Linked DNA regions of Homo sapiens: regions 1, 2 and 3 are each linked to region 4. Evidence: fine-mapped expression QTL. A gene starts in region 4. Each other region holds a variant in brackets. All regions are shown on one strand. Distances are from middle to middle.

Evidence for each region. PIP is the estimated chance that this variant, and not a neighbour inherited with it, causes the effect.
Region 1: its variant is fine-mapped to the expression of MLX in monocytes after LPS (Quach 2016, PIP 0.95).
Region 2: its variant is fine-mapped to the expression of MLX in whole blood (TOPMed, PIP 0.96).
Region 3: its variant is fine-mapped to the expression of MLX in whole blood (TOPMed, PIP above 0.99).

The regions. Positions count from the first base shown.
Region 1 is chr17:43,026,982-43,032,174 of GRCh38, forward strand. It overlaps RND2 (Rho family GTPase 2), which reads left to right. Exons shown (of 5, transcript NM_005440.5): 3 at 202-311; 4 at 1,080-1,214; 5 at 1,451-5,060. The coding sequence ends at 1,699. Among named protein-coding and RNA genes, the nearest start is that of RND2, 4.3 kb to the left of the region's middle. The variant C/CAA (reference allele first, on the strand shown) is at 2,923.
Region 2 is chr17:42,809,494-42,814,656 of GRCh38, forward strand. It overlaps CNTD1 (cyclin N-terminal domain containing 1), which reads left to right. Exons shown (of 7, transcript NM_173478.3): 7 at 1-2,094. The coding sequence ends at 42. It overlaps BECN1 (beclin 1), which reads right to left. Exons shown (of 12, transcript NM_001313998.2): 9 at 5,031-5,163; 10 at 4,455-4,515; 11 at 2,162-2,304; 12 at 641-1,435. The coding sequence ends at 1,267. Among named protein-coding and RNA genes, the nearest start is that of MIR6781, 12 kb to the right of the region's middle. The variant A/C (reference allele first, on the strand shown) is at 3,026.
Region 3 is chr17:42,404,652-42,409,651 of GRCh38, forward strand. CAVIN1 (caveolae associated protein 1) reads right to left here. Exons shown (of 2, transcript NM_012232.6): 2 at 1-737. The coding sequence ends at 36. Among named protein-coding and RNA genes, the nearest start is that of CAVIN1, 16 kb to the right of the region's middle. RefSeq lists an enhancer at 1,660-1,709. The variant AC/A (reference allele first, on the strand shown) is at 1,969.
Region 4 is chr17:42,564,874-42,570,049 of GRCh38, forward strand. It overlaps MLX (MAX dimerization protein MLX), which reads left to right and starts at 2,227. Exons shown (of 8, transcript NM_198204.2): 1 at 2,227-2,293; 2 at 2,746-2,782; 3 at 3,597-3,686; 4 at 3,964-4,070; 5 at 4,331-4,430; 6 at 4,634-4,733; 7 at 5,109-5,176. The coding sequence starts at 2,252. COASY (Coenzyme A synthase) reads left to right here. Exons shown (of 9, transcript NM_025233.7): 4 at 1-25; 5 at 110-174; 6 at 354-438; 7 at 598-695; 8 at 786-932; 9 at 1,033-1,404. The coding sequence ends at 1,095. RefSeq lists enhancers at 479-985, 986-1,492, 1,699-1,748, 2,506-3,013, 2,889-2,978 and a silencer at 2,089-2,488.

The DNA of each region.
Region 1 (5,193 bases), 460 kb after region 4:
GTTTCCCACCATGTGACCTCCCTTCTGCCCGCTCCCCCACTTGGGAAACCCAGACTCCATGATGGGTATTAATGATGGGTATTAATGGTTGCTCTTTTCCATTCTCTGCTCCCAGCATCCCTTGACCAGGATCTGTAAGGTCTCCCATTCCCTTCCAGGCCTCCCATCCACTCAGGCCCCTCATGCCCTGTCTTCCTTCAGGTTCCTCTTACTATGATAATGTCCGGCCTCTGGCCTATCCTGATTCTGATGCTGTGCTCATCTGCTTCGACATTAGCCGACCAGAAACACTGGACAGTGTTCTCAAGAAGGTGGGAGCCTGGGGAAATAGGGCAGCTAGACTGAGGGGGACCAGACCACCATGGTCCTGACATAACATGGGCCAGGAGGAGGGAGTGATGGCTGGGGTATGGCCATCAGCTGGTTAGCGAGTGAAGCTCTCATCCCTGCCACCCCTGCCTCCAGCCCCCATCCCTCCCAGCCACCCCTTTCCTGAAAGTCCTCAGAGCTGGATACAGCAGCTAGGGGAGGTGGGGGAGTGAAGGGAGAAGCACTCACAGGATTCCTTCTCTGCTCTTCCAACTCCTTGGCAGTGGGAGTCCCAGATGGAGGGGATGGGATGGGAAGCCTGATCCTGGAGCTCAGGAAAGCCCTGTGGCCTCCTCTCCAGGCCCCAGTTTCCATGACAAAAGCCAGGGGTGAATGGACAGAAGTCAGCTAGGGCAGCCCCAGTTCCCAGGTGGGGGAGGGGAGGGTGGGATAAATTTGTTCCCAGGAGAGAGTATGGGAAAGGCGAGTGGGAATGGGAAGTTTCCAGGCTGGCAGACCCTTCATAGCCACTGAGGGAGAAGAGTCCACAGGCCCACGCCAGCCCTCTCCTCCCCGCTGCTTCTCTCTCACCCCATCCTGCTCTCAAACCAAGCCTAGCATTCTCACCTCCTTCCTCATGTGGGAGAGTCCTGAGGGATACATGGTTTCTGCGTGCTTGAGGAAGAGAGGGCACACTGCTGGCATGGCACAAAGGCTCACGCTGTGCCTCCCTCCACCCCTCCACAATTCTCTTTTCTTCTCCTACATAGTGGCAAGGAGAGACTCAAGAGTTCTGCCCCAATGCCAAGGTTGTGCTGGTTGGCTGTAAACTGGACATGCGGACTGACCTGGCCACACTGAGGGAGCTGTCCAAGCAGAGGCTTATCCCTGTTACACATGAGCAGGTGGGACCCTTGACGTCTGACCTCATCCCAGCCTAGACCTGTCACCTCTGCCCCTTCAGTCTCTGATTTGAAAACACCTTACCTGGCTCATCCTTTGTTCTGGTCTGTGACCTCTGACCTGATCCCTTGACTGCCCCCAGCCTTGACATTCAACCCCAGCCCACAGCCTCCATGCCCCTTTCTAAGCTGCAGGCTAAGACCTATAACTTTCTCCCATGCACTCCTTCCTTTTCCAGGGCACTGTGCTGGCCAAGCAGGTGGGGGCTGTGTCCTATGTTGAGTGCTCCTCCCGGTCCTCTGAGCGCAGCGTCAGGGATGTCTTCCATGTGGCTACAGTGGCCTCCCTTGGCCGTGGCCATAGGCAGCTGCGCCGAACTGACTCACGCCGGGGAATGCAGCGATCCGCTCAGCTGTCAGGACGGCCAGACCGGGGGAATGAGGGCGAGATACACAAGGATCGAGCCAAAAGCTGCAACCTCATGTGAGGGGCTAGGAGAGGGCAGAGTGTGAAGAGGGGTGGTGAGGGACACAATTGTTCCCCTGCCTGCGCCCAGGCTTCCTGACCTCCTGATCCTGGCTGGGAAGTTAGGGCAGGCAGAGCGAGCAATTCTGGGCAGGGGAGCTGGAGGGCAGAAGGGTATCATCGTTTCTCATCTCCTCCTCCCTCCTCTTCTCCAGTGGATGTTGAGGGAGCTAACAGGGCTGGCATCTGGGGCATGAACTGGGATGGGGCAGGTGGGCGTTAGGGAAGCTGGTATCAAATGGTGACCTTGGTGGAGTCTCCTATGTGAAGAGTACCCTCCCTCTCCACCCCCAGTCCCCATATCCTGGTTCTGGCCCAAGGAAAATGTCCATTCTATGACCTTCTCTTTTCCTCTCCTCTCACTTCTGCAGCTATTCTCACACATCTAACCTCTAGGCAACATGCACTAAATTCAAAAGCAAGGAGAAGCCCTTGCCCCCCATCAGTCCACCAGCCCTAGAACCTCCCTTGCCTCAACAGTCACCTAATAAAGCCCACCTCCATGGAAAACGGCTGTGGCTTTAGTTTTGTTGCTTTTTAAAAAAATCAATCTACCAATCTTTAGCAGTAAGAGGGAAAGTTAGACCTCAGCTGGGGAACTTTCCTGTCCATGTCCACAGATAGAGCAGAGGACAAAGCCATAGGTTGGATCAGAAGTGTCCTTTTAGGAGTCAGAGTTGGGAGAAGGAGACATCCTGGGACTGTTCATCCTAGTTAATGAAGTGGGCAATTCTCAGGCCATTAGGGGGTTTTAGAGCAGACCGACATATAATTAGTCAGCATTTCTCAGCCCAGCCAGGCCTGCTGCTAGTGTGGGAGGGGTCCTGCTCACCATCTGTACCCCTGGCTTGGAGCCTGCTGGTACCCTGGGGGTTGTGGGGATAAGGAGGCATCAGGCCGGGCGCGCTGGCTCACGCCTGTAATCCCAGCACTTTGGGAGGCCGAGGTGGGCGGATCACAAGTTCAGGAGATCGAGACCATCCTGGCTAACACGGTGAAACCCCATCTCTACTAAAAATACAAAAAATTAGCCAGGCGCGGTGGCAGTGCCTGTAGTCCCAGCTGCTCGGGAGGCTGAGGCAGGAGAATGGTGTGAACCCGGGTGAACCTGGGAGGCGGAGCTTGCAGTGAGCCGAGATTGCGCCACTGCATTCTAGCCTGGATGACAGAGCAAGACTCTGTCTC[C/CAA]AAAAAAAAAAAAAAAAAAAAAAAAGAAGGCATCAAAAGCCTCCACATCACAGAAGCTACCCCTGTACAGCGTGAAGTTTCCTAAGAGGTCAGTAGTTTGATTCTGGGGTCTCCTTAGAGGCTCAGGCCAGGGACCTTTCTCTCCTCCCATGCTGAGTTTCATGATGGCTTTCAGGGGAGCATCAGCTGTTAGAGTCACCCCTACCCTGTCCCTTAAAGGAAAGACGGTGGAGAGGACGGCTGAGCGCCTGTTGTCAGGAAAGACAGTACTGGTCTGTTTTCTCGGGAGTCTGGTTTCAGATTGTCCTGTATTCCCTTCCTGGCTCTGGTCCCACTGGCCTCTTTTCGGTGACATTCTCCCCCAGGAACCATCCCTGGCCCTTCCCTCCCCCAGCCCTAGCCAGTTCTCCCAGACACACTGGAAGAGAACACTGACCTTACCCAACTATCTGCTGGGATCCCACCCAAATTTATAGCCCATTCCTCCCTCATTCATTCATTCAGCAAGTATGTACTGAACACCAACTGTGTGGCATACACTGGCTTGGGAGATTGCAAGGACCAGTCTCTAAGCTTTTGGAGGCCAGCCCAGTGTGGAAGAGAGGTACCTCAGGTGTGAGGGTGCCATGGCTGAGGGATATTTGTACATGTATGGGATGCTATGGGAGCTCCTTGCAGCCTGAGAAGCCAGTCCTGTGAGCCAGGTCCTGAGGGTTGAAGAGGAGTTTTCCGGGCAGGGAAGGGGTAGGAAAGGCACTCTGGGCAGAGGGTACAGCATGTGTAAACACGTGGAGATGAGAATGAGCATAGCACTGTTGGGGCTCCCATGGCAGGGAGAATAGAAGACAAGGCTAGGAAGGTACACTGAGGCTACTGCAGGGTCCACAGAGGAATCAGAATTTCATTCTGAGGATGAATGAAATCATCCTCAGAGGATGAAGCCACCAGGAATTTCAGGCAGAGAGTGAAGTGATCAGAGTTGTTTTTTGGATAGATGGTTATCTGGATGTGGTGTTGGAGCTGGGAGATTTGGCTCTGAGGTGTGTCATTTAAAATAATAGCTTCTCGGCAGTGGCTCACACCTATAATCCCAGCCAAGATTCCTCCTTTGGGAGGCCAAGCTGGGAGGATCGCTTGAGGCCAGGAGTTAGAGACTGCAGTGAGCTATGATCATGCCATTGTCTTCCAGCCTGAGTGTCAGAGTGAGACCCTGTCTCTAAAAAAAATTAAAAAATAAAAAATAAAAAATAGCTTCTCCTTTCCCTTATGCCAGGTTCCAGTCTTGAGAGGAAAGGAATCCCTACCCACCACTCCCTGGATCATCAGATATCCCTATCCCAACCTCTCCTATGGGACTAGTTCATCTCAGCCAGTCTCAAAGATTCTAGGATAACTTCAATGGCATTTGAAATTATCTAAGTGTGCTTGGATAACCACCCCCTCAAACTGAGACCTGGTTAGGGACTGACTCAAAGACCCTGAGTCCTCGGCTAAGGGTACAGGAGAGGGCAGGGGCTCCAGGCCCAGCTAGGTGGATCTCCATCTGTCTCTGAGGACTGACCCTTTCCCCACAAGGACCTGCCATAAAAATCGACTTGCGATTTTTAGCTGAGTGGCTTCTCTTTTCCACTTTGGACTTCTCAGTGTATAGCAGGTTCAAGCCTGCAACCACCAAAGTGCAGAGTGTGGAGTGTTTGTGCCCCCTCTTTCCTCCAACCTCCATATCCTGCCATGTGAGCTCAGGGAATGCAAATGCATTTAAATATCCATCTAAAGCAAACATAATTAGAAAAATCAATCAGCTGGAGGACCCCCCAAAGTTTAATACATTTTCAATACCACCAGGAATGGATTTTTGGTCCCTTTCTGCAGGTCTGGGTTGCCAGACGTTTTATTTCTGGGGAGGAGGGCTCTGGGCTGAGGAGCTCAGTGGGTGGGAGGAGGGAATGGGACTGTTGCTGATCCTCAAAGGCCTCTGTAGGATGGAGGGAGGGGACCTTACTCCCTTCCCCACCCCAGATGCAGGAGTCACCCAGCTTCCTTCTCTGCGCTGTTTCCTTCACAAATTAGACATTGGTTTGGGAAACAATGTAGCCTCGTTAAACATTTAATGAAATAAACAAATAATCACACTGTGATGGCTGCCAGAGTTTCTGTGTTTTTTTTTTTTTTTTTTTTTTTTTTTTGAGACGGAGTTTCACTCTGTCATTCAGGCTGGAGTGCAGTGGCACCATCTCGGCTCACTGCAACCTCTGCCTCCTGGGTTCAAGC
Region 2 (5,163 bases), 240 kb after region 4:
GCAGCCAGAGCTCTGAAGACTGTTGCTTCCTCTAACACATGAGGGAGGCTGAATCCACCAAATATAAACAGCCATCCGTCACTGCACTCATGCCTCCCTCTGTTTACTTTCATACTAAGGGTACAAAAATTCCAAGTCTCTTTTGAACTGTATTTTGTATGCCAATTTCATGCTTATTTTTCCTTTATCAGAGAGAGTTAAGGTGGACGAGCATGCCCTTTTTGTCATATCAGCCTGAAAATGTTAAAAAGCTAGGTGGAGACAGATTAGTTGTTTCATTTTTGTTTAACAAGGTATTTATACTTTTAGCTTAATTTCATTAAGAGGAACATCAGGCATTGCAATCAGTATTAATCAGGGGCTCAAATACAGACTATCTGGGTGACCTTGACTAAGCATCAAGGAGGTAGCCTTTATTTCCCCTTAAAATTAGTTTAACATCTCTGTTCCATTATTCAGATCTACACAAACAAGGCTTCCTCAACAGCTATCTATTTTTACTAGAGTCTTTTTTTAAAACTAAAACTAACTCTAAAGAAGTTTCAACAGAATTTCCACATACCTGCATTCATTAGAACTTGATTCTCCCAGAATACAAAGTACTCTATTTTAAAGAAAAACCCAACAGTGCACCCCTGGGCAGTTTTCAGACTGCAGCAAATCTTTTATTACAAATAATTAAATCTCTCCATAATGTCTCAAACAGTATCAAACACCATTTCATATCTCTAACACAGAGCAGAGTCGGCATTCAGTATAAGAACCAAGTGAAAAGTGTTAAATTTCAAGCATCTGATCACATCACATGGTGACCAGGTAAAGCTTAGATGTCATTTTCCCACATTATCCAACTGTGCATCTCAAACATATCCTCATCTCAGTAAAGACAAAAGTTTCTATTTCATATTGTTAAGTGCAGGAAGTTGAGAGAGATAAAAATCCAGTGAAAACACATCAATCTCAATTCAACTCAGTTAAAAAAAAGAAAAGCAAATTTAAATTAGTTTTTTTCAGAGAAGAAAGGGAAAGGAGTCCATGGGGTTAAGAATCAAAACTGACCAGGGCTGGCAACTATAGATGGCATGTTGTAGCTCTGGAAAGTATCTGTCACATGATATTTTAAAATAAAGTGGCTTTTGTGGATTTTTTCTTTTTTGGTATTGTAAACATGTACTGTTTAATATTACCCGAATTTAATTTAAAACATGTTTGCAAACAAAACAAAATTAAAAGCCTTTAAGGCAAACCTCCCCCTAAGGAAAAAAGTCATTTGTTATAAAATTGTGAGGACACCCAAGCAAGACCCCACTTAAGATTCGTCAGCATGAACTTGAGAGCTTTTGTCCACTGCTCCTCAGAGTTAAACTGGGTTTTGATGGAATAGGAGCCGCCACTGCCTCCTGTGTCTTCAATCTTGCCTTTCTCCACATCCATCCTGCAGATGGACAGAGCAAAACTCATTAGTAACTGAGATCTGAGTTAAGTAAGTTCGGGGCAGGGACTTGATCATGGGACCATTCACGTCATTTTATCTATTAAAGAACACTTGGTGAGGAATGATAGTGTATTTTGGATTTGCTTGAAAGCCAAAAATCAAGAAGACTGTCACAAGAGCCTCATTGTCATTGCAGAGTACAGGGACAGGACACACACCCAAAGAGAAGAGAAGCCTGGAGTAGGGGTGAGTGAGGGTTACAGTACTTCTTGCTGTTTTCCTAGGCATCCCTGAACTTGGCGGGGGAGAAAGGAGGCAGAAGAAAAGAAATGCTTTGTTTTGGGGTGATAGAAGCAGCCTTACTCTAAGTAAAAACTAGAGTTTCCATCCATCAATGGGATCCTAGAAAAATCAAAAGAAGCATTCCTGTGTATTTCCAAGGGCTTCAGGGAAAAACCTTCTTGAAACTGGAGAGGAGGCTTGAGCTCTATGCCAAGAAAACCCCCTAAACCATCTAAGGCAACATTCTTCTACTCCAAGGACTAGGTGGTCACATTCTGTCCTGCTTGCAGTACTGGGTCAGTCTCTGCCCATCAATGTCATGTGATTCTGTGCCATTTTTTTGCTTTCCCACCATTTATACTGTTTTGCCTCCATTATTACTGCTGCTTCAATTCTGTTCAATTTGGTCCTATACAAGTTCACTCAGCATTGCGCTATACTGACCTGTAGGGAAGACAAAAACGTGTCTCGCCTTTCTCAACCTCTTCTTTGAACTGCTGCACACAGTCCAGGAAAGCCACCATTGCATGGTCAAACTTGTTGTCCCAGAAAAACCGCAACCCCCCAGAACAGTATAACGGCAGCTCCTGCCCAAGAAGAGAAAACTGGCTATGGATCTGGCACCAAGAAAGGCTTCCAGAGATTGTTCCCAATCCTATCAATCTCTCAAGTCATGTTCTGTCTGTATCCCACTGGAAACTTGTATTGTAGCTGGACTCTATCTTCCATAGATTTGAACAACTACAATAAGCTTGGGCAAGTAACAATGCACTTAGAACTGTTTCACTATCAATGAAAATGTACCATAGGTTGAGCATCCTTAATCCAAAAATCCAAATTGCTACAAAACCTTTCCAGGAAGAGTACATGGGAAAAGAAAAATAAATAAATAGACCAGGAGCAGTGGCTCACGCCTGTAATCCCAGCACTTTGGGAGGCCAAGGTGGGCAGATCACCTGAGGTTGGGAGTTTGAGACTAGCCTGACCAACATGGAGAAACCCCGTCTCTACTAAAAATACCTAATTAGCCGGGCGTGGTGGTGCATGCCTGTAATCCCAGATACTCAGGAGGCTGAGGCAGGGGAATTGCTTGAACCCGGGAGGCGGAGGTTGCAGTAAGCCGAGATCATGCCATTGCACTTCAGCCTGGGCAACAAGAGCGAAACTCCATTTCAAAAAAAAAAAAAACCCACAAAAAGAAAAGAAAAAAAAATAAAAATATGCCAGGCACAGTGGCTCACGTCTGTAATCCCAGCACTTTGGGAGGCCAAGGCGGGTGGATCATGAGGTCAGGAGATCAAGACCATC[A/C]TGGATAACATGGTGAAACCCCGTCACTACCAAAAATACAAAAAATTAGCCAGGCATTGTGGTGGGCGCCTGTAATCCCAGCTACTCGGGAGGAGAGGAGGCTGAGGCAGGAGAACTGCGTGAACCTGGGAGGCAGAGCCTGCAATGAGCCGAGATCACGCCACTGCACTCCAGCCTGGGTGACAGAGTGAGACTCCGTCTCAAAATAAATAAATAAATAAAAATAATAAAAAATGCTACAAAACCTGAAACTTTTTGACCATTGATATGATGCCACAAGGGGAAAATTCCATACCTGATACCTTTGCTTTTTTTTTTTTTTTTTTTTTTTTTTGAGACAGAGGCTTGCTTTGTCGCCCAGGCTGGAGTGCAGTGGCGCAATCTCGGCTTACTGTAAGCTCTGCCTCCCAGGTTCACGCCATTCTCCTGCCACTGCCTCCCGAGTAGCTGGGACCACAGGCACCTGCCACCACGCCCAGCTGATTTTTTTTTTTTTTTTGTATTTTTAGTAGAGACGGGGTTTCACTGTGTTAGCCAGGATGGTCTCAATCTCCTGACCTTGTGATCCACCCGCCTTGGCCTCCCAAAGTGCTGGGATTACAGGCGTGAGCCACTGCACCCGGCCCTTTGCTTTCTGATGATTCAATGTATACAAGCTTTGTTTCATGCACAAAATTATTTAAAATATTGTATGAAATTACCTCAGACTACATGTATCAGGTATATATAAAACAGGCCAGGCACGGTGGCTCATGCCTGTAATCCTAGAACTTTGGGAGGCTGAGGCGGGTGGATCACCTGAGGTCAGGAGTTCGAGACCAGCCTGGTCCAACATGGTAAAACCCCATCTCTACTAAAAATACAAAAATTAGCTGGGCCTGGTGGTGGGCACCTGTAATCCCAGCTACTCCAGAGGCTGAGGCAGGAGACTCACTTGAACCTGGGAGGCGGAGGTTGCAGTGAGCCGAGATCGTGCCACTGCACTCCAGTCTGGGCAACAGAGCAAGACTCTGTCTCAGAAGAAGAAACATAAATGAATTTTGTGTTTAGACTTGGGTCCCATTCCCAAGATATCTTAGTATCTATATGCCAATATCCCAAAATCTGAAAAAAAAAATCCAAAATCTAAAACACTTCTGGTGATACTCAACCTGTAAACATCTATCTCACGGTGATTCTTTTCCTAGCCTAGTGCACACACCCTCTTCTGACCTGCCCATATCCCTTCTCAACAGACTGTCAAAACCTGATTTCTGTCTACAAGACCCCCAAAACTAAACCTGAACTAGACAAGATATTGAACAATATACTGGCTCTTCATATCTAGGTCTAAAAAATAAATTGAATGCCAATATCAAAGCAAACCATCCATTTTCTTAAGAGATATAAGAACTCTGTATTCCAGTGAAAATGGAGCTTCACAGAGTACCTTAGATTTGTCTGTCAGAGACTCCAGATATGAATGGTTTCCGTAAGGAACAAGTCGGTATCTAAAATAGAGATACAAACAGAGATGGATACAGGACTCCTCCCAAAGTGATTATTGGGAAGTTACAACCCAATGATTTCACTCTTCATTCTGGCCAAGGGCTTCTTTTATTATGCTCAACTCCCTCTCCCACCTCCCCATTGAATCCATGTTTAAAAGATTTTGTTTAATGAACAAACTACATTTATTATATAATTGCCTGGGGGCCTTCCATGAACAAATGTTATGTTTTGGTTTAAATTTAAGAAACAAAAACTGAAAATATCCTGAGGAACACTAAGGCTCTGGGGACTGTAGGCTGGGAACTATGCTATAGTCACGCAACTCAGTGACTGTGTGATCAGTGGAGAGAGCCCTGTGATGAGGGGAAAATCAGATGCTGACAGCTCTTCAGCCACAGAAAACTCCCAGTCTGTGGGCAGCAAGGGCTCCTGACATGGTGGACAGCAGTACCAGGTTGGAGATACAAATTATATCAATGCACATCACTCCCCAAGAAAGGGCTACACTTCCTACCTCTGAAATTTCAGACCCATCTTATTGGCCAGAGCATGGAGCAGCAACACAGTCTGGCCCCAAGCAGCATTAATCTCATTCCATTCCACGGGAACACTGGGCAGGCGACCCAGCCTGAAGTTATTGATTGTGC
Region 3 (5,000 bases), 160 kb before region 4:
GAGCGAGGAATGGGGTGGGTGGCAGCGGGGGCGGCTCAGTCGCTGTCGCTCTTGTCCACCAGCACGGCGTCCGACTCCTCGGTGATCTCCAGCAGCGCGTGCACGTCGGGGCTGCTCCCGCGCCGCAGGTCGCCGGCCTCCCCGCGCTCCGCGCCGCCCTCGTCGTCGTCGGCGCCCACCTCCACCATCTCGGTGGCCTTGAGCACTTCCACCTGGCCCTCGCGGATCTTCTTGACGTGGAAGGTGAAGGGTGGCACCTTGTAGACCGCGGTCTTGGAGCGCGCGTACACCACGTGGTCGGGCGTGAAGGATTTGCGCAACTTGTCCCGCGACGTCTTCAGTTTCTCGCGCCGCTCGGCGGGCACCAGGCGCGTGCCCAGCTTGTTCATGCGCTTCTCCAGGGTGTGCCGCGTCTTCTCCAGGTTTTCCTTGGTCTTGAGGCGCGTCTTCTCCAGGTTCTCGCGGGTACGCACCTTGGTCTTCTCCATCTTCTCCTTGGAGAAGGCCTTCTTGAAGTCGTCCACGCGCCGCAGGCCGCTGCGCTTGATACGCTCTGCGCGGGACTCCTCAATAACCTCCTCAACCTCCACCGCCTCGTCCGACGAAAGCTCCAGCGCCGCTGCGTCCTCCTCGGGCCGCTCGCCCTCGCCCAGCTCCTCGCCCTCCTTCTCTGGCAGCGCCTCCGACTCTTTCAGCGATTTGCTGATGCTCAGTTTGGCCGGCAGCTTCACTTCATCCTAAGGGAAGAGGAGAAGGGACATGAGAGGCGTCGGAGGAGGCGGATGTGGGCGAGCCTGAGTCAGGGTGGTGACGATCCTGGAGAGAGGGGAGCATGGGACGCTCGTGGTCCCCAGGAAACTGGCGGGCGCTCAATAAATGTGTGTAGGCTCACGCCTGTAATATTAGCGCTGTGGGAGACCGAGGCAGGAGGATGGCTTGAGTCCAGGAGTTCGAGACCAGCCTGGGCAACATATCACCCATCTCCGGCCCCCCAACCCCGCGTCGCCATTCTTTCTCTCTCTCTCTCCTTGTTTTTTTTTTTTTTTTTTTTTTTAAACGGAGTCTCGATCTGTTGCCGAGGCTGGAGTGCAGTGGGCGCGATCTTGGCTCACCGCAACCTCCGCCACCCGGGTTCAAGCAATTCTCCTGCCTCAGCCTCCCGAATAGCTGGGATTACAGGCGCCCGCCACCACGCCGGCTAAATTTTGTATCTTTAATAGAGACGGTGTTTCTCCATATTGGTCAGGCTGGTCTCGAACTCCCGACCTCAGGTGATCCGCCCGCCTCGGCCTCCCAAAGTTCTGGGATTACAGGCGTGAGCCACTGCGCCCGGCCTCGCGCCGCCATTCTCTAAAAAACATGTGTGTTGAACGAATGGTGACTAAACAGACCGCGGGAGCAGGGGACCAAACTTCGGGTCGGAGATGGGGTTGCGTAATAATTGCACTTGGGCTAAAATCTCTGTGGTCGTCCAACCCTGTCCTGATCCCTTTCCACCCGTAGATGATATTAAACCACTACGGCCCTCGGGAGACACAGCTCCACTTTGGAAATGGGCGGAGCGCCCTCTGGTGCCGCAAATCGCACACTGCCCGAGCCAGGCCGAAAAGCAAGTGGTGGGAGTGTCTAAGTTGAAAGCGGGTAGGGGTTTGAGCCCACAGCTGCACCTACCCACCCAAGCAGGTAAAGTAAAGGAAGTGCATTTCCTAGACTCAAGCTATTTCTTTTTTTTTTTTTTTTTGAGATGGAGTCTCGCTTTGTCGCCCAGGCTGCAGTGCAGTGACACGATCTCTGCTGACTGCAACCTCTGCCTCCCAGGTTCAAGCAATTCTCCTGCCTCAGCCTCCTGAGTAGCTGGGACTGCAGGCATGCGCCACCACACCTGGCTAATTTTTTTGTATTTTTAGTAGACTCGGGGTTTCACCATGTTGGTCAGATTGGTCTCGAACCCCTGACCTCAAATGATCC[AC/A]CCGCCTTGGCCTCCCAAAGTGCTGGGATTACAGGCATAAGCCACTGCTCCTGGCCTCAAGCTATTTCAGAACCAGCCTTAGAGATGGAGAACTGTGGTCCACCCTCCCCCACCTCCACCTTCTTTGACTCCTTCATACTGTTTGGCTCCACCAGTGGTCATTCTCCCCCTCCCCCACATTTAGAAATTGATATTGGAAAGAGGAAGAAGCTGGCTGGGAGCCACGGACATGTTTTCTCCCCAGTCTGGACATTTCTTCTGGTTGTGACTTCCCTACTTTGGGATAGAAGAGAGATTACTTTTCAATTCTTGCTTTCCCTACCCCCTGCCCCCAGCACAAAGCCTGAGCTCAGGGGTCTAGGAGTAGGATGGGTGGTCTCAGATTCCCCATGACCCTGGAGCTCAGAACCAGTTCTTTGCTTTTCTGTCTTCTCCTTGGAGGACTTAGCACCAGAACTGCTTTCCATTCCGGGAAGATTTTCCAAGATCTTGACTCTGGCCAACATTTCAGAATCTCTGGATCACTCCCTCCCCCACCTCCACCCTCATCAGAGAGCAGGGGAGGCTGAGCACAGAAAGGGAAAGGGCAGACCAAGATCATCAATAGGATCTCTTTGGCCCAGACTCCCTTTAGTGACTTCAAATGAAGGAACGAGAGATAGTCGCTTTTCTAAAGGGTTTTCTGAAGACCATTTCCCAGAATTATAAGAAAAATCCTGTCCCCTAAGAAATTAAGGCAACATAAACTGAGTCCTCTCACTGACACCACACACACACACCCCTATACATAGGCTGCTCGGTATCTCTGCACCACCTGCTACAGAAATTCCTTCCCCAGCCCCCAACCTCTTTCCTCTTCCCTCCCATCAACATCCCCCCAGAGTTTCCTGGTTTACACTGAAAACTAGGAACACCCTCTCCCAACTTCCTTCCCTTCTTGTCAATAGCATTAGCAGGGACAAAGAGGGAATGCTGGCTCCACCTCTTCTCTCATCTGGGCATCAGCTCTGCTGGGCACCAAGCCACCTCCAGCTCTCTGTTACCCAACTACACCTCCCAGCAGGCAAGGTGACCTGGGCACAGGGCATGCTGGGACTTGTAGTCTCTACCTGCCATAGACGGCTTAGTGCAGATCATGGGCAATCCTAGGGCATTTTGTTTATCCCTCTGCCTCTTATCATTCACTGAGGCATTGAAGGGTGTTTTCCTTGTTCTGAGTGTAGGAGAGTCTCAACTTCTCTTTGCATTCCCTCTGATTTCCAGTCATTCACTTTGGGGCTCCTACAATCACCCTTACCCTGCCTGCTACTGGAGTGCATATCATTTAAGACTTATACATCATTGTAGGATCTAAACCCTCTTCATCCATCTCCACCCAGAATTTACCTGCAGCCCCAGTATATATATATATTAAAAAAAATTCAGCTCTGATCTTTCCTTCATAACCTCCCAGACTTAAAAACCCACCCACGCCCCACCAAAGGGTGGAGAGAGCCCCTCCTTTCACTAAACTCAGACAATGTGAATAGGCTAGGGAGGGATTAAGGGTGACAGGCAGGGAATAGTCAGGAAACAGCCCCAGCTGCTGGAAAACAAATCCACTTTGTCTCTCTGCCCTACCCCCAGCATCCCCCGCTTCTCCCCTACCCCTGCTGCCTGCTCCACCCCACCCCTAAAGGCTGAGCTGGCTGGTTTTCCTGGCCTGTGGCTTCCTAGATAAAGGTCTTTGCCAGCTGAACTTGGAAGTGAATGGGACTGGGGAGAGAGCTGCAGACTTCTTATAGCCAATGCCATCTTCCTAGTGCCTCATGAAAGGTCTCAAACTACAACATAAGGAAGCAATCCTAGTGAGAGGAGGTTTTTGTTTTTTAGTTTTTTTGTTTTTTTTGAGATGGAGTTTTGCTCTTGCTCCCCAGGCTGGAGTGCAATGACACGATCTCGGCTCACCGCAACATCCGCCTCCTAGGTTCAAGCAATTCTCCTGCCTGGGCCTCCCAAATAGCTGAGATTACAGGCATGTGCCACCACACCTGGCTAATTTTGTATTTTTAGTAGAGACGGGGTTTCTCCATGTTGATCAGGCTGGTCTTGAACTCCCAACCTCATGTGATTCGCCCTCCTCAGCCTCCCAAAGTGCTGGGATTACAAGCCTAAGCCACCGTGCCCGGCCTTTTTTTTTTTTTTTTTTGAGACATGGTCTCACTCTGTCACCTAGGTTGGAGTGCAGTGGCGCGATCTCGGCTCACTGCAACCTCTGCCTCCTGGGTTCAAGCAGTTCTCCTGCCTCAGCCTCCCAAGTAGCTGGGATTACAGGCATGCACCACCACACCTGGCTAGTTTTTGTATTTTTTGGTAGAGACAGGGTTTCACCATGTTGGCCAGGCTGTTCTCAAACTCCTGACCTCAAGGGATCCTCCCACCTCGGCCTCCCAAAGTGCTGGGATTACAGGCACGAGCCACCGCATCTGGCCATTTTTGTGTTTTTGTTTGTTTGTTTTGAGATGGGGTCTTGTTCTGTCAACCAGGCTGAAGTGCAGTGGCATGATTACAGGTCACTACAGCCTCAACCTCCTGGGCTCTAGTGATCCTCCCACCTCAGCCTCCCAAGTAGCTGGAACTACAGGCGCACGCCACCATGCCCAGCTAATTTTTGTAGTTTTTGTACAGGCAGAGTCTCACTATGTTGCCCAGGCTGGTCTCAAACTCCTGGGCTCAAGTGATCCCCTTGCCTCGGCCTCCCAAAGTGCTGAGATTTCTCGCATGAGCCACTGTGCCTGGCCAAGGGGAGGTTTATTCCTGGATTTAGAAATCTCTCCAGACCAGTAAGGGATCTGGGGGCTCTAACCCCATTCATCGTAGGCTTCCCCTGGAGTGACGGCTTACACCATAGGAGCTGCCTTCTTGGTGGAAGGTCAGGGGACAGGAGACGAAACAACTTGAGCTGAATCCTGGGATGATGTCCAATAGGCTGGCTCTGGAGAGGGTATTTCACCATTAGCTTTTCCTCTCCACTCCAGGCCAGGTTTCCCCC
Region 4 (5,176 bases):
CCTGTGGTGGAGGCCTTTGGAACAGGTAATAACTGGGGAAGGCTGAAAGTGGCCTGGAGTGAGGAGCTAGCCAGGCCTCTGTGCTCAGTTGTCTGTCTGTGTTGTCCAGATATTCTCCATAAAGATGGCATCATCAACAGGAAGGTCCTAGGCAGCCGGGTGTTTGGGAATAAGGTAAACAATAACTTCCTAAGGGCTCCTAAGCCGCTACTAGACCCAGGGGTCAGGGTCCAGTGGACCTCTCTGGTCTGGCCCAGAATGCCATTTCCATTGATCTGTTCCCAACACCACCTTGCTCGGGCTGGCTGCCTCTTCTAGAGAAGGTAACCTCTGCCCTCTGTTCCCCTCCCCAGAAGCAGCTGAAGATACTCACGGACATTATGTGGCCAATTATCGCAAAGCTGGCCCGAGAGGAGATGGATCGGGCTGTGGCTGAGGGTGAGTGGGAGGGAGGATGGCAACAGCTAAGGGGACAGTTAAGCTGTTTCTTCCCCTGGGAGCTTCCCTGCCCAACGTGGGACTGTCTGTTCACCCTGGGACTGTGTTCTGCCTGGGAGAACGTCGGCACTGCTGGCGGTGACTGGGGTCTCCCCACAGGAAAGCGTGTGTGTGTGATTGATGCCGCTGTGTTGCTTGAAGCCGGCTGGCAGAACCTGGTCCATGAGGTGTGGACTGCTGTCATCCCAGAGACTGAGGTATCTCGCCCCACCCCCCACACCATCCCTACTGCAGATCCTATCCTGTGAGCTGGAATTCTTCCTGACAAATGTCTCGTCTGTGCTCAGGCTGTAAGACGCATTGTGGAGAGGGATGGCCTCAGTGAAGCCGCGGCTCAAAGCCGGCTGCAGAGCCAGATGAGCGGGCAGCAGCTTGTGGAACAGAGCCACGTGGTGCTCAGCACCTTGTGGGAGCCGCATATCACCCAACGCCAGGTTGGTGCCCAGGGCAAGGCCGGGTTGTGGGGAAGGAGTCTCCAGTGGGTACTGCCTGACCCTGCCCTCTCTTCCTCCCAACATCCTGGCCTGTCTGAAGGTGGAGAAAGCCTGGGCCCTCTTGCAGAAGCGCATTCCCAAGACTCATCAGGCCCTCGACTGAAAAGTTCTCAGTGGGGCCAGACTGGCTCCTGGAGCTGACAAGCGACCCCGTGGTGAGGAGAAATGGGGGCCTTGATGCTCACCCTGGTTCAGGCCCAGAGGTCCAAGCTATACTGTGCAGGACATGGCCAGGCCTGGTGGACACAGGAAGCCTACCCAACACGCTGGTATTTGGCCAACACTGAGGATGTGGTTCATGGGGGAGCAGTCCCCTCCCCACTCTTGCCCATGGGTGACTCTTACCCACAGCTGACTAGGGCCAGCGCAAATACTGGAACCTGTAACAGAATTAAAGGTGAATGTTCTGAGATGTTGCTTGTATGGTGTCTGCTTCCTGTTCCAATGCCCCTAAGTATCTTTGGGATCCTTAAGCCACAAGTGCAGGGCCCAGGCCTGAGCTGGAAGCCTGGGCAATGCAGTGGTTAAGAGAATGGCCTTTGAGGCTAGCCAGAGGCGAGCTTTGGCCCTCCCACTGACCAGCTGTGTTCTTCTGAGTAAGGTGTAGACTTTCTAGGTACTGCCGTGTTTTATTGTTTTTGTTTTGTTTTTAATATGAGAGGCCGCATAACCTAGCTAGCAGGTTCTTTGCAAGGGTTCATTCCACATGCATCCTGCCAGACACTGGGCTGGGTGTTGGAAGATCAGCCTTCCGCGCGCCAGGCGGGGCCTCTGCCCTCACAGAGCTTGCAGCCTGGTGGGGTCGGACGATGTGGCTGGGGGCTTCTCTGCCCGGTTCCTGACACACCGGCCAGCAGTGCAGGTCCGGTGAGCGCGGGGAGGCCGCCCTCAGGGTAACGTGGGGAGCCGGCCGGCCGGACAGTGCGCGTGCACACACTATCTGCGGCGGTGTGCTGACAAGCCAATTGAGGGGACTCCATCTTACAAAACGCGCTTCATGTCGCCGCCATTCCACTGCCTAACCCGGGGAGGGCAGGCACGGCGGGGAGCAGTCTCGAAGGAGGCTGGCGCCAGGCCAAGCGCCGGGCCTTGACGGCTGGAACCGTGGAGTAAAGTCTTTGGGCTGCGCATGCGCGATGCTTCGCCCTGCCCCACCTCTCGGTCGCGGATTGGCGGGCGCGGGTCACGTGGGCACGCCACCCGCTTCCTCGCCGCAGGGGGCCCGCCCGCTGGCCCGTTTCCGGTCCGGTGGGTACAAGATGACGGAGCCGGGCGCCTCTCCCGAGGACCCTTGGGTCAAGGCAAGCCCCGTGGGCGCGCACGCCGGCGAGGGGAGGGCGGGTCGGGCTCGTGCACGTAGGGGGGCCGGAAGACGAGGGGCTTCCCTCCTGTCCCCAAAGTCCCCCACGCTCTCCGTGCCCCGGGGCTGCAGAGAAGACAGCTCTCACCCCGCGTGTGCCAAGGTGGGGAGACAAACGAGGCGTGTGCGCGCGAGTCGGGGGAACGGGGCACTGGGGTGGAGTAGGGGCGGAAGGGATCATACACAGGGGAGGCACTCGCACGCCCTAGCCTGTGCCAGTCTCGGGGGACTCATTAAGCTGCCCGCGCACCCCGGGCTGTGTGTGTGCAAGCGCGCAGGGTGACAGAGGCGCCTTCCCGGAATGGGGGGCGCGCTGTGCGTGCCTGCAGTGGAAGGGGCGCCTCCCCCTAGGGGCGGAGGTCTGACGGGCCCTTCCCGTGCTCTGTGCCGCAGGTGGAGTATGCCTACAGCGACAACAGCCTGGACCCCGGTGAGTAGCTGCCCCATCTTAAGCTCTAGAGGGACACTCCCGCCCAGGCTCTCTAGATTCTTGTGGCGTTGCCAACCACGCCTGAGCACAGTCCACTCTCCCTGAGCAGAGTTCCTGGCTTGAGACAGCAGGAGCTGAAGGACAAGGGCAGAAAACAACTGAGGGTGACACCTAGTTCCCTCTGCTCTGGAACAGGGAAGTGGTGGAACTGATCACTCACCACTCAGTGGAGCAGCTGATCACTCACACCCTCATCACGTCCACATGCCCGTTTGTGAGCCAGGGGGGTATCATGCAGGCCTATGGAGCAGTGTAGACACTAGGGAGCAGAGCACTGCAGCGTGGTCTGGCAGGAAGTGGGGGGCCCAGTATGGTTGGCTTTGGGTTGAAGGGAAGAGGTCAGCATTTAAGAAAGCCATTGTGTGGCCGGGCGCGGTGGCTCACCCCTGTAATCCCAGCACTTTGGGAGGCCGAGGCAGGCGGATCACGAGGTCAGGAGACCGAGACCATCCTGGCTAACACGGTGAAACCCCGTCTCCACTAAAAAATACAAAAAAATTAGCCGGGCGTGGTGGCGGGCGCCTGTAGTCCCAGCTACTCGGGAGGCTGAGGCAGGAGAATGGCGTGAACCTGGGAGGCGGAGCTTGCAGTGAGCCGAGATCGCGCCACTGCACTCTAGCCTGGGCGACTGAGCGAGACTCTGTCTAAAAAAAAAATAAATAAATAAAAGAAAGCCATTGTGTCCTACAGGTGTCTGAGGGTCTGGCAATGTTCCCCACCCCACCCCTTAGTGATTGGGGCCTCTCTTTTCCAGGGCTTTTTGTAGAAAGCACCCGCAAGGGGAGTGTAGTGTCCAGAGCTAATAGCATCGGTTCCACCAGTGCCTCTTCTGTCCCCAACACAGGTAGGCAGTAACATCCCCCCCGACCTCGGGGGGCTCAGATATGTCATAATTGTAGTACCTTTCCTAGACAGGGAAGCCCCAGCCATCCACACAGGGGTGCTGGAGCCAAAGTATCAGACACAAGGTCTCACCATCTTTCACCTCATCTGGAACATTAGGTGGTTCTGTCCATCTGCCTTCTCTGGACACCAGGTTCTTCCCAGCTGGGGAAAGGTGGGCTAGCTGGACCCCACTGGGCCCCAAGATGACCTTTCCCTGCCCCCATCTCTGAGCGTAGATGATGAGGACAGTGATTACCACCAGGAGGCCTACAAGGAGTCCTACAAAGACCGGCGGCGGCGCGCACACACTCAGGCTGAGCAGAAGAGGAGGGACGCCATCAAGGTGAACAGGGAGGCCTGTGCCTCAGCCAGTGCGGGAGGGCCCTGCATAGTTTAGCTTCCCTGTGCCCTGACCCACTCAGACAGTCCCAGGCACCCTAGGGGGTGGGCAGGTAGTATAGTCCCAGGCACAAACACCTCCCTTGCAGCCTTCCCACCCCATTGAGTTTGTGAGCATAGAACTTGGTGTCATGGAGGAACTTTGTGCCATTTTGCTTTAATCTCTCAGGGTTAAAGAACCCATTTCCCCTGCTGTTTCCACAGAGAGGCTATGATGACCTTCAGACCATCGTCCCCACTTGCCAGCAGCAGGACTTCTCCATTGGCTCCCAAAAGCTCAGCAAAGCCATCGTTCTACAAAAGAGTATGGCTAGGGAAAGCACTGGAGGGGATGGAGCCAAGCGGGGCTGTGAAGAGGCCAGTGCCTCCTACCCACCCATGGCTCGGCCTTGGTGTGGTGATTGCCATGGGATAGTTGGGGTCTGGGGTAAGGGGAACAAAGTCAGCCTTATCTTCTTGGTTGAGAATACTTCTGTACCTGTCCTTTTTTTCTTGCCCCCACCCTAGCCATTGACTACATTCAGTTTTTGCACAAGGAGAAGAAAAAGCAGGAGGAGGAGGTGTCCACGTTACGCAAGGATGTCACCGCCCTAAAGATCATGAAAGTGTAAGAGGGGTGCTGAATGGGGGGAACCAGAACTTCTGAGGCAACTTCATTGCACACCCTCCCTTGTTCAAAGGCCACATCAGTTACTGCTGTACAGATAATACTCTTAGTTCCTGAGCTAGCCAGTAGGACTGTGTATCCCCAACTGTCCTTACACATGGCAGACACTCAGGAAATGCCTGTTGGATTAATGTAAGGAAGGTTGGAGAGAGAGGGCCACCTTTCCTGACCTGGAAGCAGTATCTCCCTGATACTGAACCCCACCCAGAAGCTCTCTGGGGCTGCCATTCCTGGGAGTACACAGGATAGTCCCGTCATTCTTCTTGGGTGGGCGGAGCTGCTGCAGCACCTCAGCCCTGGCCTGCATGCTTTTAGGAACTATGAGCAGATTGTGAAGGCACACCAGGACAACCCCCATGAAGGGGAGGACCAGGTCTCTGACC